2 separate regions of the Homo sapiens genome follow, and region 1 is linked to region 2. Evidence: fine-mapped expression QTL. A gene starts in region 2. The other region holds a variant in brackets. All regions are shown on one strand. Distances are from middle to middle.

The links. PIP is the estimated chance that this variant, and not a neighbour inherited with it, causes the effect.
Region 1: its variant is fine-mapped to the expression of SBK1 in whole blood (TOPMed, PIP 0.98).

What each region holds. Positions count from the first base shown.
Region 1 is chr16:28,312,660-28,320,959 of GRCh38, reverse strand. It overlaps SBK1 (SH3 domain binding kinase 1), which reads right to left. Exons shown (of 4, transcript NM_001024401.3): 2 at 3,343-3,575; 3 at 1,763-1,965; 4 at 1-884. The coding sequence starts at 3,568. The coding sequence ends at 39. Among named protein-coding and RNA genes, the nearest start is that of SBK1, 24 kb to the right of the region's middle. The variant G/A (reference allele first, on the strand shown) is at 3,365.
Region 2 is chr16:28,288,953-28,297,275 of GRCh38, reverse strand. SBK1 (SH3 domain binding kinase 1) reads right to left here and starts at 4,751. Exons shown (of 4, transcript NM_001024401.3): 1 at 3,976-4,751. It overlaps LOC124903670 (a long non-coding RNA gene), which reads left to right and starts at 5,211. Exons shown (of 2, transcript XR_007065033.1): 1 at 5,211-5,509. RefSeq lists silencers at 4,651-4,880, 5,088-5,259.

The sequences.
Region 1 (8,300 bases), 24 kb before region 2:
CCCGGGCTGCTCCCGGGTCCGAGGGCGGCGGAGGCGACTCAGACGCAGATCTCGATGGCCGTGGCCAGCACCACCTGCCCTTTGCTCTTGTCCGCGCGGCCGTCGGTCCGGCCGGGGGGCCCCTGGGGAGCTAGGCCGGGCTCGGGCACAGGCACCGGCACGGGCACTGGCACCGGCACCGGCACGGGCAAGGGCACCGACCCGACGGCGGGGGGCGCGGGCCGGGAGCCGCTGCCGCTCTCGGTCAGCACCGTCCGCTTGAGCGGCCCAGGCGCCTCGAGGCGCAGTGGCCCGGCGGCGGGCGGGCGGTCCCCGGGGGGCTTGCGCGCGCGGTGCGAGGGCCGGCGGCGCAGCTCGGACGTGAGCTCGTGCTTGAGGAAGCGGAACACCTCCTTGGCTGGGCCGCGGCGCTCGGGCTCCAGGGCCAGTAAGCGCTGGAACATGCGCAGCGCGGGCTCGGTGAAGCGGCGCCACTGCGAAGGCAGCCCCGGCAGGCGGCCCCGCTGCCAGCGCACGAACTCCTCGAAGAAGGCGTCGGCGCCCGACGCCGCCTCCCACGGGAAGTTGCCGGTGAGCACGCAGAAGATGAGCACGCCGAAGGCCCACACGTCCACGCCCGTGTCCACCGCCAGCCCGTCGGCGCGGCCCGCCTGGCACACCTCAGGCGCCGTGTAAGGGATGGTGCCGCTCACGCGCTTGACGCGGCAGCCCACGCGGCGCGTCATGCCGAAGTCGGCCAGCTTTACGCGGCGGCACTCGCGGTCGAACAGCAGCACGTTCTCGGGCTTGATGTCGCGGTGCACCAGCTGCCGCCCGTGCATGAAGTCCAGCGCCAGGCCCAGCTGCTGCACACAGCGCTTCACCGTGTCCTCAGGGAGCCCCACCTGCGGGCGGCCGGGGGAAGCCGCGCTGTTTCCAGCTCTCCAGCGCCCGCCCCGCCGCCCTCCCCTCCAGCTCCCTCTCTAGCAAGGCGGTTTTCGCCTCCCACCCTGTCCCCAGTAACTGGGGCGACCGCGCAGACGCGGCCCGGATGCTGCTGAGCGCCCTTTCCCCCGCTGTCTCATCCAATCCTCATAGTGGCTACCATGCCTGCTTCTCCTATGGGGACATCGGGGCTCCAGGAGGGACACGCGGCTCTCCAGGAGGTTGATGAGGGGGTCCGCGGCGCCCTCCACCTGCTGTCATTTTGCCCTGCCTGCTAGATACTTATCTCGTCGGTCTTCCCCAACTAGAACGGGGCTCCCTGAGCTTCCCGTCCTGTTCCCTGCTGTGTCCGTGCATCTGTGTCTCCAGATTCTGGCATGTAGTAGGTGCTCAGCAAAGAAGGAGGACCTGCTCCGAAGGTCTCATCACTCAGCCAGCAAGTGGCAGAGCAGATTTAAAGCTAGTGCCTGGAACCCTCCCCCACCGTCCCGGTTCCAGGGTCGCTTCCTCTGAGGGCCCCTTCCCAGGTGGATCTGACACCTCTCCTCTTGTGTAGCCCCAGGGGAGGGCCCAGTGACTTCATCCCATCATTCTCACTGTCTCCTTTTAGGCACTCATCTCCATCTGTTATTATCTGGCCCGCTGTGGAGTGTCAGTTTCCCACTAGAACAGGGACTTTTGTCTTCCTTACTGCACATCCCCACCTCCCCAAATGGTAACTGACATACAGCAGGCACCCAGTAAATACTTGTTAATTAAATGGTCTGACTCCACTCCCACTCTCACACTCTGGGACCCTGAAGACCCTTTCCCCACCCTATGCCACCATCCCGAGTACCTGGGGAGGGATGATGTCAAACAGGTCCCCAGCAGGTGCGTACTCCTGGGCAAAGACGTAGCAGTCCTCTGTCTCAAAGACCACGTCAAAGACCTTGATGATGAAGGGGCTGGAGGAGAGGCTGTTGGTGATGCTCACCTCCCGTAGGAAGTTCTTCAGCTTGGTTTTGCTCTTGTTCACAAACTTCAGTGCCATTTTTGTGCCTGATGGGAGCAACAGCAACAGGGTTGAAGCCCCCTCTCCCAGTGCCTCCGCACTGGATGCACCCATGCCTGTCTCTGGACCCTGGTGCAACAGGGTCCCCAGCAGGCATGACTGTCCTCATCTCACGGATGGGAACAGACCCAGAGAGAGGAAAGGACTTGCCCAAGGCCATGCAGGCAGGGTCAACCTGAGCCTTCTACACCCACTCTGCAGCTCTCCAAGAGGAGGGGGCGAGGGGGCCTGTGATGCCCTCCACCTCTCTCATTTTGTCCTGCCCGCCATATGCTTATTTATCTTGTCAGCCTACCCCATCTAGAACGGGTCTCCCTAAGCTTCCTGTCTTGCTAAATGGATGAATGAATAAGAAATGAGACACTGCAAGGCATGTGTCCACAACTCTGTGCCTGGGCAAGCATCTGTGCCCATCTGGTACATAGCTGGGTGGAGCACACATGTGTGTCCACGGAGCATTTACACATCGCAGGCCCTGCCTTCAGCACTGCACATTCACAACTCACACTTCATTATGATTGTATGGGTTGTGCACTAATGTTACCCTATTTTACAGAGAAGGACTCTGAAGCACAGAGAGGTGAAGTCACTTGCTCAAGGTCACACAGCAAGCAAGTAACAAAGCTCAGGTGACCCCATGTTAGGTGCTCCTCCTGCTGCCCTCAGTTAGCACAAAGCCCCTGGACCCAAGCGCGTGCAGCTGTGGGAGCTCACACAGCCCCAGCCCCTGGCTGGCTGGGTGGCACGGCTGTGACCTACAGTGTGGGGGAGGTATCAAGCTCAGTGACTAAGCGACAAGGCTCTGGAGATGACTCCTGGGGTCTCGTTTTGGTTCACAGCCTCTGTAGCTGCAGGGCATTGGCTATGTGGCTGAATTGGCCTAGGTCTCCCTGTCCTCACCTGAGAGATGGTGATTGCAATATTGACCTCACAGGTCCTTCCACCACCCATTAAGTGTGGCACCCTGTTCCTGAGGAACCACCCTCACTCTCCATCCACCTTCCTGGGGCCAGACATCCCTGAGACGCTGGTGATACTCAGACACAGCCGGCAGCCCTGCCCTCCCCAGACACTCCTGGCACAGCCCCTTGGCTGTCTCAAAGTCACCCCAGATGGCCCCACAGCAGCCCATCCTGTACCCTGGCCACTCTGCCCCGGATTCCTCCCTTGCCCCATCTGCCCAGTCTCTTTCCCCCTGGGCTGCCTCAGGCCTCATCCTCTACATCTGGCCCCTGACCCTGCCTCCTGGCTTCCACAGAGCACCAGAGAGCCCCGGCCCAGCTGCAAGGTCATGTCCCCCAACCCTGACCTCCCAGCCCTGCCCCACCCCAACCTCTCAGCCCTGCCACCCTGCACTTGTTCACCTGTGCCCTTGTAGACCACCAG[G/A]TCAACCTTCCCATAGGTGCCTTTGCCCAGCTCCCGGACTAGTTCGTAGTGCTTGGTGACGTCGCTGGCGGCCAGTGTGCGGAGAGTCAGGGCCTGCATGTCTTCAGTGAGAAGGGGCACACCGGCACCAGGCCCAGGGGCAGTCCCCGGCCCACAGCAGGTCAGGGAGCGGGGCGGCTCAGGCTCTGGGCAGCCCACGCTCATCTTCTCCCTGTTGGGTAGGGGTGGTGAGCATGAAGTGTGACATCAGGCAAGGGTCCCCTCCTCCAGCCCCTCTGCCCTCCCCAGAACCCAGAAAACTTGAGGATGGGCCCGGATGCCAGGCCCAAGATAACCACAAGGGGGCGACAAGCATCTTGGTCGCGTCGCCTTCCCCAAAGCCTCAGGGGCCAGGCCTGAGTCAGCTCCCCGAAGACCAGTCACTGCCAGACCCTGCGCTTGGTGGCACCAGCCCCTCTGCCTCATGCTGCCACCCACACACAGTGTCAGGCAAGGCCCCTGTTTATGTCACACAGACACAGCCAGATACCGAGTTCACACGGGTACTCCCATTCAGAAGCGTTGGTTTTATTTGGATTGTAGAGAGGGGGGTCCCACTATGTGGCCCAGGCTGGTCTCGAAATCCTGGATTCAAGTGATCCCTCTGCCTGGCCCTCCCAAAGTGCTGGGATTACAGGCATGAGCTACTGCACCCGGCTTGTTGTTATTTTTATTTCTGAGACAGGGTCTTGCTCTGTCACCCAGGCTGGAGTGCAGTGGCGCAATCACAGCTCACTGCAGCCTCGACCTCCCAGGCTTAAGCTATCCTCCCATCTCAGCCTCCTGAGTAGATTGGATTACAGGCATGTGCCACCACACCTGGCTAATTTTTATTTATTTATTTTAATTTTTAGTTCTGGGGTACATGTGCAGGATGTGCAGGCTTGTTACATAGGTAAACGTGTGCCATGGTAGTTTGCTGCACCTATCATGCCTAATTTTTAATTTTTTTTTTGTAGAGTTGGCATCTCTTTATGTTGCCCAGGCTGGTCTAGAACTCCTGGCCTCAAGTGATCCTTCCACCTCAGCCTCCCAAAGCACTAGGATTACCAGCATGAGCCACTGTGCCCAGCTTATTCACAAGTACTGACGAAGCACCTGCTGTTCCCCAGGGCTCTCCAAAGCCTGGAGGACACAGCATGGAACAAACACCTAGGATTCCCTGCCACCATGGGGCTTACACCCCAGGGGGAGAAGGGCAGTAGACACAGTGATCACATCAGTTGTATATTACGATCGAAAGTGGTATGGCTGTCCATAAGGTAGGGGGTGGGGAAGAGGTCTGAGGGCCATGATTGCATCATCACATACCTTGGCCACGTGGTCTCAGGCCAAACTGGCAGGATGGTATAGATGTGGCCACACCATCCCACCATACACATGGCCACACATCAGCACAGCCTGGCAGTGCCTCCCCCACTGCAGACGACCTCACCACCCGACTAATGAACACTGCGCCTGGCCAACCTGACTTTTTCAAAAATTGTATTTAGGCTGGGCATGGTGGCTCACAACTGTAATCCCAGCACTTTGGGAGGCTGAGTGGGCGGATCACTTGAGGTCAGGAGTTCGAGACCAGACTGGTCAATGTGGCGGAACCCTGTCTCTACTAAAAATACAAAAATTAGTTGGGCATGGTGATGCACGCCTGTAATCCCAGCTACTTGGGAGGCTGAGGTAGGAGAACTTCTTGAACCCTGGAGGTGGAGGCTGCAGTGAGCAGAGATCGTGCCACTGCATTCCAGCCTGGGCGACAGAACAAGACTCCGTCTCAAAAAAAAAACTGTATTTGTATTGAGACAGGGTCTTGCTCTGTTGCCCAGGCTGAAGGGCAGTAGGATGATCATAGCTCACTGCAGCCTCGAACTCCTGGGCTCAAGGGATCCTCCTGCCTCAGCCTCCTGAGTAGCTGGGACTGCAAGCATGCGCCACCACATCTGGCTGATGTTTAAATTTTTTGGAGAGATGGGGTCTTGCTATGTTTTCCAGGCTGGTCTCGAACTCCTGAGATCAAGCGATCCTTCCACCTTAGCCTCCCAAAGTGCTGGGACTACAGCGTGAGCCACCACTTGGGCTAAGACCTGACTTGTCATGTGGGTGACAGTGAACTAACTCTCCATCCGTGGCCTTCATTTCTTTATTTCCCCTTATCTCATGTCATTTTTCTAGTTTTATTGAGGTATATTTGGTGTTCAAAAAACTACACATATTTGAAGTGTACAGTGTGATGATTCTGACATATGTATACATCCCTGCCGTCGAGACCACGAACACATCCATTACCCCAAAGTTTCCTTTTGCCCCTTTCTAAAACCCCATCCCCCCAACCCCGGTCTTCCAGGCAACCACTCTGGGCATTCATTTCTCATCTGTAAATGGAGAGAGGTAGACTATGGGGGATGAGCCTTTCCCAGGCGCAGGCACACATGAGTATGTATCTGTGTGTGCACTGGCAAGAGAGGCCAGGGCTGCCTCCTTTAGAAGCTGCCACCAGCCTCCAGCCCCTGAGCACTGCTTCCGGGTGCAGCCTCCCTCTACCCTCCCTGCACTCCCTTCTCCCTTTTTTCCCTTTTTTTTGAGACGGAGTTTCTCTCTTGTCACCTGGGCTGGAGTGCAGTGGTGTGATCTTGGCTTTTTGCAACCTCCGCCTCTTGGGTTCAAACAATTCTCCCACCTCAGCCTCCCAAGTAGCTGGGATTACAGGTGTGCGCCACCATATCTGGCTAATTTTTGCATGTTTAGTAGAGATGGGGTTTCACCATGTTGGCCAGGCTGATCTCGAACTCTTGACCTCAGGTGATCCATCGCCTGGGCTTCCCAAAGTGCTGGGATTACAGGCGTGAGCCACCGCACCTGGCCCCTTCTCCCTCTAATCCCAGACATGTCACTCCAGTGTCCCTAGCCTGCTCCTAAGCACCCCTGCACCCTGAAGAACAATGACCACAGCTCCCTCTGGGAGAAGGCACAGATGTAGAGCCAGACAGCCTGGGTCTGAGTCCCAACTCTGTCACTTGCTAGCTGGATGTCCTTGGGCAAGTTACTTCCTCTCTCTGTGCCTCAGTTTCCTCATCTATACAAAGGATATAATAATAGTGCGTTGGGCCACTCAAGGTAGCTCACGTCTGTGATCCCAGCAATCTGGGAGGCCAAGGTGAGAGGATTGCTTGAGGCCAGGAGTGTGAGACCGGCCTGAGCAAGACCCTGTCTCCACAAAAAAAAAAAAAAAAAAAAAGTTAGCTGGGTGTGGTGGTGCACACCTGTGGTCCCAGCTACTCAGGAGGCTGAAGCAGAAGGATCGCTTGAACCCAGGAATTCGAGGCTGCAGTGAGCTATGATCACTTCACTGCACTCCAGCCTGGATGACAGAGTGAGACCCTATCTAAATATAATAATAATAATAATAATAACAATAATAACGACAACAACAACAACAACAGTGCCTTCTCCCGATGCGTTCTTGCGAGGGTTAAGTAAGTTAACAGGCGTGAAGCCCTGGCATGTGGCATGCAGTAAGTGCTCCATAGGTGCCCAGGCTTGCTGTGTTGTTCTCGTCATCATCACCGGCTTTCTCTCTGGCTGAGCAAGGGTGGGCGGGCGGGTGGGCATTGCTGGAGGCTGGGAGGGGGTGAGCACTCCATGAGCCCCGCATCCTCTCGCAGCCCAGCGGCTCCCTTCCAGGCCCCAAGCCTCTCCTCCTCCTCTGCCTTCCCCTTCACTCTCGGCACGACCCAGCCTCCCACTTCACACGGAGAGGAGGAACATCAGGAGAGAACTTCCTGGCCTCCCACCCAGCCCCAAACGGAGCTCCATCTGCACCGTCCTCTCAGCTGGCTGGGGAGGAAGGAACCCTCCCCTCCCCGCCCTGCAGCCTGCTCCCATCCCTGTCTTCCCAGCCTCCTGCCTCCCTCCATTCATGAACCAGCTCATCTCCCCTGTCAGTATGTTTTTTTTTTTTTTTTAAGACAGGGTATCGCTCTGTCACCCAGGCTGGAGTGCAGTGGCGTGATCTCAGTTCACTGCAACTTCTGTATCCCGGACTCTGGCAATCTTCCCATCTCAGCCTCCTGAGTAGCTGGGACCACAAGGTGTACGCCACCACACCTGGCTAATTTTTGTATTTTTTGTAGAGATGGGGTTTCACCATGTTGCCCAGGCTGGTCTTGAATTCCTGACCTCAAGCAATCCTCCAAAGTGCTGGGATTACAGGTGTGAACCACCGCACCCAGCCTCCTGTCGTTTTTTAAATTAAATTAAATTTTTTTTAAACAGGGTCTCGCTCTGTTGCCCAGGCTGGAGTGCAGTGGTGCCCCCATGGCTCACTGAAGCCTCCAGCTCCTGGGTTCAAGCAATCCTCCCACCTCAGCCTCCTGAGAAGGTGGGGCCACAGGCACGTGCCACCACGCCCAGATAATTTTTTTTCGTATTTTATTTATTTTATTTTGAGACAGAGTTTCCCTCTTGTTGCCTGGTGCAATCTTGGCTCGCCGCAACCTCTGCCTTCTGGGTTCAAGCGATTCTTTTGCCTCAGCCTCTGGAGTAGCTGCAATTACAGGCATGTGCCACCATGCCTAATTTTTGTATTTTTAGTAGAGACAGGGTTTCTCCATGTTGGTCAGGCTGGTCTCGAACTCCCGACCTCAGGTGATCTGCCCGCCTCAGCCTCCCAAAGTGCTGGGGTTATAGGCGTGAGCCACCGCATCCGGCCCATATTTTATTTTTTGTAGAGATGGGGTCTCACCTTGTTGCCCAGGCTGGTCTTGAACTCCTGGGCTCAAACAGTCCTCCTGCCTCGGCCTCCCAAAGTGCTGGGATTACAGGCCTGAGCCACTGTACTTGGCCTCCTTGCCCCTGTTCCAACAGGAACTTCCTCTCCAGCAACTGTCTTTTCTTTCCTAGC
Region 2 (8,323 bases):
CACTGCAACCTCTGTCACCTGGGTTCAACCAATTCTCCTGCCTCAGCCTCCCTAGTAGCAGGGATTACAGGAATATGCCACCGCACCTGGCTAATTTTTTGTATTTTTAGTAGAGACAGGGTTTCACCATGTTGGCCAGGCTGGTCGCAAACTCCTGACCTCAAATGATCCACCTGTCTCAGCCTCCCAAAGTGGTGGGATTACAGGTGTGAGCCACCGCACCTGACCAATATTTTTTAGTTACTCCTATAATTAGGCCCCCAGCTCTCCTGCCTGACCAAAACTTAGACCAGCTTGGACTTAGTCCTAGAAAGTTAGAAGGAAGAAACTTACAGCTACAAGAAGCTTTCATCCAGTTCTTCTGTGGACAGAGGGGTGAACGGAACCCTGGACAGTAGCCCTGCCCCAAGAGTCCTGAGCAAGACCTGCACCTAGAACCAGGTCAGGAGGGGAAGGGAAGGACTCGGGTTTGCTGTCCCTGGGACACATGGGGCAAGTGGGACAGAGAAAACAGGTTTTTGGTTGCTGGATGTCACTAGTTCAGGGGTAAGAGTGCAAGATGGGATCAAGAGTGGAAAGTGGAACCAGGCTGGAGAAGTTCAGGTTCACTTCACCACATAGCCCTTAAGACCCTGGGTGGACACTATTCTGTGCACGTTCTAACTTGACCATGGGGGTGGGAGGGAACACCCATGAGTGCAGAACACACACAGACGAAGGTTGCCCACCGAACAAAGATTTTTTGGGCTGTGTGTGGTGGCTGTAATCTCAGCATTTTGGGAGGCCAAGGCAGGTGGATCACCTGAGGTCAGGTGTTCGAGACCAGTCTGGCCAACATGGTGAAACCTCGTCTCTACCCAAAATACAAAAATTAGTTGGGTGTGGCCGGGTGTGGTGGCTTACACTTGTAATCTCAGCACTTTGGGAGGCCGAGGAGGGTGGATCACGAGGTCAGGAGTTCAAGACCAGCCTGGCCAAGATGGTGAAACCCCGTCTCTACTAAAAATACAAAAAATTAGCCAGGCATGGTGGCGGGTGCCTGTAATCCCAGCTACTCGGGAGGCTGAGGCAGAGAATTGCTTGAACCCGGGAGGTGGAGGTCGCAGCGAGCCGAGATTGTGCCACGACACTTCAGCCTGGGCAACAGAGCGAGACTCTGTCTAAAAAAAAAAAAAAAAAAAAATTAGCTGGATGTGGTGGTGGGCATCTGTAATCTCAGCTACTCAGGAGACTGAGTCAGGAGAATCACTTGAACCCAGGGGCTGGAGGTTGTAGTGAGCCGAGATCTCGCCATTACACTCCAGCCCGGGCAACAAGAGTGAAACTCTGTCTCAAAAAAAAAAAAAAAAAAAAAAGATTTTTCTGGGCCTGCAAACCCAGATGCCAGCATCGGGGGCCAGGAGGTGACCTAAGGGAGCGAACGGCTGCCTGGGGGTGGACTGGAAGGCAAGGGCCCTGTCTAAAGAAGGTGGTCATTCTCCCGCTGTGGCCTGAGGTTGCCACATCATCTGATTTTTCAAGAAGATCCAAAAATCAGCTTTTGTATGTGAAATTGCCTCCCCCCGACTTTTTTTAAGCACTCACAACAAAGACAAACATGTAAAATACATTGGACCAACAAAAATCGTCTATAGGCTGTATTTTACAGCACGTGCCCTACCATACGCTGGGCTCTGAATTAGACAATGCTGATGCAGTATGGACAAGACAAACCTGGTTCCCGTCTCCTGGAGCTGAGTCTAGATGTGGAGACAAACTCTCACTGCACATGTAGACACACGCCACTACCTCCAAGCCACCAAACCACCAACCAATCAAATTCAGCTCTCTACTACGTGCCAGCTCAGGTCAGCTCAAAAAGGGAGGTGGAGGCAGAAAACGGCTCCGGAGCCATCCTAGAGTGGGGCTTTTCAGGTCAGGGGAAGAGCACGTGACGGAGGCAGAGAATTAGAGGACACGGAGGAGATGGGCTAGGAGAGGTGGTTTAGGGCCAGGCTGCAGTCCAGAGACTATCTGGACTCAGCGACTTGATTCTGGACTCAATGGAGAGCCACTGCAGGTTAGTGAGGAGGGGAGGTCTTGCTCCTTGTCCTCCTCTGGCCTCCTCACAGTTTGCCCTGGACACAGTGACTCAAATTTCTGCTCTTCAGCCTCTGGTTCCACTGCCTTGCCTGTGGGGTGTGTGACAAAGCCCTGGGCTTCTGGGAACCCCCACTGGGGGGAAATGAACTCCTTCAGCAATGGGTAGAGCAAACCTGGATGCTTGTCCTGCCCAATTTCGATCTCCATCCGCCCTTCAAGCTGCAGAGAGGCTCACTCTCTGTCATTTTCTCTGGGAAGGGCCACGTGCTTGCCCAAGGTCACTCAGTCTTCAGGGCACCTGATTCCCCCACAGCCTGTGCTGAAGGTGGCTGCCTCAACTGTCCTGAAATTGGCAGGAGAGGCTGCCAGAGGTCTGCCCGCATCAAGTGCCCCCTACCCTCGTCTCCAGCTGGTCACATCCTCACCCTTGGGTCAGTGCCAGCAGCAGGTGGGGGTGGGGGCACTTGGTGCTGGGAAGGTGGGAGATGAGGAGTCAGCCACCCAGGCTCAGGGCTCCCAAGGCTGTAGCAGGACAGGGATCAGCTGCTTCAGGTGTAGGGTCAAGAATCTCTCAGCTGGACCTGGCCCGGTCCACTTCAACAGGCCCAATGGGACGTGCCCAGGGGTCTGATGATCAGGAGACATCAAGAAAGGAGATAGGAATGAAGTGGGGAAAAGGACCCTGACTCTAGCGCATGGTCCATCACAGACATTGGCGACAGGTTTGTTGAATGAATAAGTGAAGGAGCTACTGGCAGGGCTAGCTGTATCCTGGGTCCTGCCTTCCCGAGCCTCAGTTTGTGCACCTATCAAATGGGTCCAGCATCACTGCTTGTCTGCAGAAGGCTCAGAGAGAAGAGATGAGAGGAACTCCCAGCAGCCCAGAGTGTGTTCTTTCCATGCAGTCCAGCCCCTTCTCAGGATCTGATTCAGGATTTCAGGGTACAATGTCCCCTAGGGTCTCTCGGCTTCCTCATATGCGGTAGAGCCTGGGGTTCAGGACCTCACTGAGGGCCAGGCTGGGGTACGGCCGTGTGTACCACCTGGAAAGCCACAGTGAGACCCTGGAATTGGCCCTTGGTTGTCTGGGACACATTGAGCCAACCCTTGGTTTAACCTGGGTGTTCTCCAGGTTAGGAGGGGAAGGGAAAGACTTGGGTTGCTGTCCCTGGGACAAATGGGAACAGAACGGTGCCCTGACCTGAAATAGCTTCTTCATCTAGGCTACCTCTCCTCCCCAGAAACTAGCGCCTCACTTTGGGGGGTACTTACTCCCTCCCTGTCCCACAGGGAGTACAAAGTATGGTTTAGGTAAAGACCGCCAGTGTGGCCTGGGTCGGGCAGCAGAGTCACAGGGAAGATGCGATTCCCATTCATCCGCTCAAACACACCCCTTCCCCGCACTCTCACAGACAAAGACACACACCCGAAGCCCCAGCCATCACCCAGGGCCACATAAGGCAGCCCCCCTCACCTGTGGGCACCCCCAAATTTTCCCCTCTCGGGGGGACTTCACTAGAAGCTCAGCTTGGCCGTGGGGGAGGGGTATTCACACTCCAAGGACCTGGGGGCCAACCTCCAGGCTCGCAGCTTTTGGGGGGGGACTCTCCGCCCTCTTCCCCCCTCTCCATGGCACAACGGGCTCCACCACCACTCCTCCGTGGGGCCGGGGAGCTGCGCCCGAGCCTCAAGGCTAGGGAGTGGGGTGGGGGAAGGGAGAGGAGGAGGGGGCGGCTCCTCCAAGCGAGACACAAAGAGACGTCCTTCAGCCTCGGCTCCATGGCGACGCTGGGGAAGGGGGAGCGCGCAACCCGATACTTCCTTCCCCACCTGCAGGGCTATGGGGACCTCGGTGGCCACTCACCTGCCGCCCCTCACCTGGGCCCGGCTTACCTGGGCTGGGGCCGCGGGGACGCCGCGGCAGGGGGCCTGGGCGCCGTCGCGGTCTTCGTCTGCCCGGCCCCGGGGGCTCAGGGCGCCACGACCATGGACCGGGGTGCAAGCGGTGCCGCCAGGGGCTCAGTCGCCCAAGTCCTGGAGCTTTAGGGGGGGGATCCCCGAGGCTTCTTGCTGGTGAGAGTGTCTCTTGCTGTCCCCGGCTGCCTAGATTTGGGATTTCTATGTACCGGAGTTGGGGGGAATTGGGATCCCCTGATCTAGGGGCGTTCTGAGCTGGGTCTTCTTGTCTTGAGGTGTGGAGTTGTAATGACCGGATCTTGGGAGGGGGTTCTCGCAATCCCGGCCTGGGGGCACTGCGTTCTAGGTCTTGGGGCGGGGGCCCAGACTGAGGAGGGGGAGTCCTTGCGGTGCCGTAGGGGGCTTGCTGTCTTCTAAATACCGAGGAAGTCTCCGCTTTCCCCGCAGGGGAGTCGCTCGGTGTCGGATCCGGGAGGGCCCCCCCTCTTCCCCGAGGCTCGCCGGATCCTGGATGTGGAAGGGGGCTCCCCGCACTCCTCGGCTGCGGGGGCTTTAGTGGGTCCCGGCCACCGGCGGGCGCTGGAAGCCCCTCAGCCGCTGGGGGGCTCGGTCGCCGCCGCTACGAGCAGCCCGGCCCTGCGCTCCCGGCCCCCGGCCTGGCCCGGGCTCCGGCTGCGGCTCCAGCTCGCGCTCCGCCTGGCGCTCGGGCCCCGGCCCCGGCGCCCGCCCGGGCTGCGCTCCATCGCGGCATCGCGGCTCCGCCCTCCAGCCAGCGCGCACCTGCCCGCCCGGCCCGCGGCTCCGCCCTCCGGCTCGCGCGCCGCCGCCCGCCCCTTTGTCCGTCCCGCTCGGCGCGCGCCCTCGCGCAAGCGCGCTCACCCGCCGCGCGCCCGCCCTCCCGCCGCGCGCCGCGGAGCGCAGATTCTCCCCGCGCGGCGCCCCCACCCCCTTCCGGCCGCGCTGGGTCCTAGCGCCGGTGGCTCCCGAGCTGGCTCCCACCCCCCACCCCCCACCCACCCCACTCCTTTTCTAGGTCAGAGCCCACGAGGGGGCGAGAACGAGGTTACAGAGGACTCGGGGGAGTCTGAGAGGGTCACCTGGTCCAGCTTTCTGGGCCCTGCGGGACGAGACTGCCCCAGACTGTCCCGGTCTGTGCTAGTGGGGCGGAGCCTGTGTGTGTTTGAAGGAGGGAAAACAAATCCAGGTTCTGCATTCGGATATGCATTTCATTCATCCATGCGTCCGCCTGCCTGCCTGCGCTTCCATCCATCCATCCATCCGTCCGTCCATCCATCCATCCATCCATCCATGCATCCTATTTCCAGCGAGACGTCAGAGAACTCACAGTCTTCTTGGGGAAGAGGTCATAAACTTGGGCCTGGGTGGTTGCCCTATCCAACTGAGGTCGCCTTTGCGATCCCTGCTGCAAATAGGCAGTGACTAGTCCAGGAGTGCAGCTGGGAGGAACTGCTCGCCGGATAGAAGGGAAGAAAGGAGATTCTAGGCAGAGGTACAGCAGGTGTAAGGGATGTTGCATTGTCTGTTTGATAACCGGAAATTGGTGGCCTGGATGAAGTGGGTGGATGGGGACAGAGATGAGATAGGGACAGCTCGTCCTTCCAGGCCCTGTTCTTTCTCCTCCCTGCAGCTCACTCTTTCCCTAGTGAGAAAGCCCCAATAGGACGCCTTCCCTATTTCTTTCTTTTTTTTTTGTTTTTTTAGCTTCAAGCTTCAAAAGCATTTCTTTTTCATTCTTTTTTTTAATTATTATTATACTTTAAGTTTTAGGGTACATATGCACAACATGCAGGTTTGTTACGTATGTATACGTGTGCCATGTTGGTGTGCTGCACCCATTAACTCGTCATTTAGCATTAGGTATATCTCCTAATGCTATCCCTCCCCCTTCCCCCCACCCCACAACAGTCCCTGGTGTGTGATGTTCCCCTTCCTGTGTCCATGTGTTCTCTTTGTTCAATTCCCACCTATGAGTGAGAACATGCGGTGTTTGGTTTTTTGTCCTTGCGATAGTTTGCTGAGAATGATGGTTTCCAGCTTCATCCATGTCCCTACAAAGGACATGAACTCATCATTTTTTATGACTGCCCCTATTTCTTCTAAGTTTTTGATCAGGCTGTTTTCTCAACCCAGCGTAATCCTCCCAGCCACTCCCGACTGTTTCCAGAGCTTTAGGAGCCAGGGATTGCAAACGCAAGTACCTACAGGCGCAGACATGAGCGACTGGGGTCGCATGTAAAGTGATAGAGAGGGTGGAGAAGAGGGGAACTGGAGACATCGTGGGCTGTGCGTGGCTGGATGATATTCAAAGAGAAGCAGGACATCCAGAAATCTTCCAACTTTTAAATGTTTGAAACGAATTCCCAAAATTCGGAAATATTGAATGGGCCAAATGAAACACACTTTGCAGACAAATCTGGCCCCCAGACCATAGGTTGGCAACCTCTACCATTGAGAATATTGTTTCAGTTCTTAACTTGTCGGCCTCCTGCCTCTGTCTAGATTGTCTTTTTTCTCTTTTCTTTTCTTCTCTTCTCTTCTCCTTTCTTTCTTTTTCTCTCCCCGCCCTTCCTTCCTTCCTTTCTTCTTTCCTTCCTTCCTGCCTTCCTACCTTCCTTCTTTTTTTGACAGAGTCTTGCTCTGCTGCCCAGCCTGGAGTGCAATGGCACGATCTTGCCTCACCGCAACCTCTGCCTGCGGGGTTCAAGTGATTCTCCTGGCTCAGCCTCCTGAGTAGCTGGGATTACAGGCGTGTGCCACTATGCCTGGCTAATTTTTGTATTTTTACTACAGACGGGGTTTCATCATGTTGGCCAGGCTGGTCTCAAACTCCTGACTTCAAGTGATCCACCCACCTCAGCCTCCCAAAGTGCTAGGATTACAGGCATGAGCCACCGTGCCTGGTGATTGTCTTTTTTCTAGAATCCAAATCCTTTGGGATCATCAGGTCTGTAAAATACAAATGGGGTTGGGTTGCTGTCTTACATAAAACTGCCAAGGACTTCCTGTGTACCATCAGGGTAAAGTCTAACCTTACTTATCCTGGCATTCAAAGCCCTTAACATTTAGAGCCTGCTCTCCATTCCCCTACAAAGGACCTCTCTTCTCCATTCGGCCTTGACCTCAGCCACGCTATTCTAGGACATCTGCCTCTGTCTTTTTTTTTTTTTTTTGAGACAGGGTCTCACTTTGTCACCAAGGTTGGAGTGTAGTGGTGCAATCATGGCTCACTACAGCCTCAACCTCCTGGGATCAAGTGATCCTCCCACCTCAGCCCCCTAAGTAACTAGGACTACAGGTGTGCACCACCAGGCTCAGCTAATTTTTGTATTTTTTGTAGAGATGGGGTTTTGCCATGTTGCCCAGGCTGGTCTTGAACTCCTGAGCTTAAGCCTTCCATCCACCTCAGCCTCCCAAAGCGCTGGGATTGCGAGTGTGAGCCACCACGCCCAGCCCTGACATCTGTTTGTTTTTGTTTTTTTTTTTTTTCTGAGATGGAGTTTCACTCTTATTGCCCAGGCTGGAGTGCAATGGCACAATCTTGGCTCACTGCAGCCTCCGTCTCCCGGGTTCAAGTGATTCTCCTGCCTCAGCCTCCCAAGTAGTTGGGATTACAGGTGTGTACCACCACGCCTGGCTAATTTTTGTATTTTTAGTAGAGATGAGGTTTTGCCATTGTTGGCCAGGCTGGTCTTGAACTCCCGACCTCAGGTGAGCTGTCCACCTCAGCCTCCCAAAGTGCTGGGATTACAGGTGTGAACCACCTCACCCGGCCTGACATCTGCTTTTGATACCTCCACGCCTTTGTCTACTCGGTTTCCTCTGTCTGGAACACCTTTCCCTTCCTCCTTGTTTTCCAAACAAGTTCTCTTCTAAGAACTCTGTGTCTTCCCTTCCTCTCCCACACTCCTTGTCCTGCCAATGTAGAGGAGTTTCGGATTTCATTCTAACTTTGTTCTAATCCTCTCCAAGGCCTTAGTGCCGTAAATAAACTAATAGAGGGATTTGAGTTATTGGGTGTGCAGAAGAGGGGGCTGGAGAGGGAGAAAGCAGGAAGAAAACATTCTGTGTCTAAAAGCTGAGTCTCAGAATGTTAGCACTTAGAGAGCACTTTCCTCTTTTTGCAGAGGAAGAAACAGACCTAGAGAGGGGAGGAGTCAAATCAAGCTTTGCAGTGCCCCTAGCCACAGTTAATCAAGGGTTGCCCAGTTCAAGGCCACCTTCTGCGGAAACCTTCCCTGATTCCTTATCTGGGGCTTTGATTACCCATAGTGCAGTTAGTAAAGGTTTGCTGGCATGCATTGTG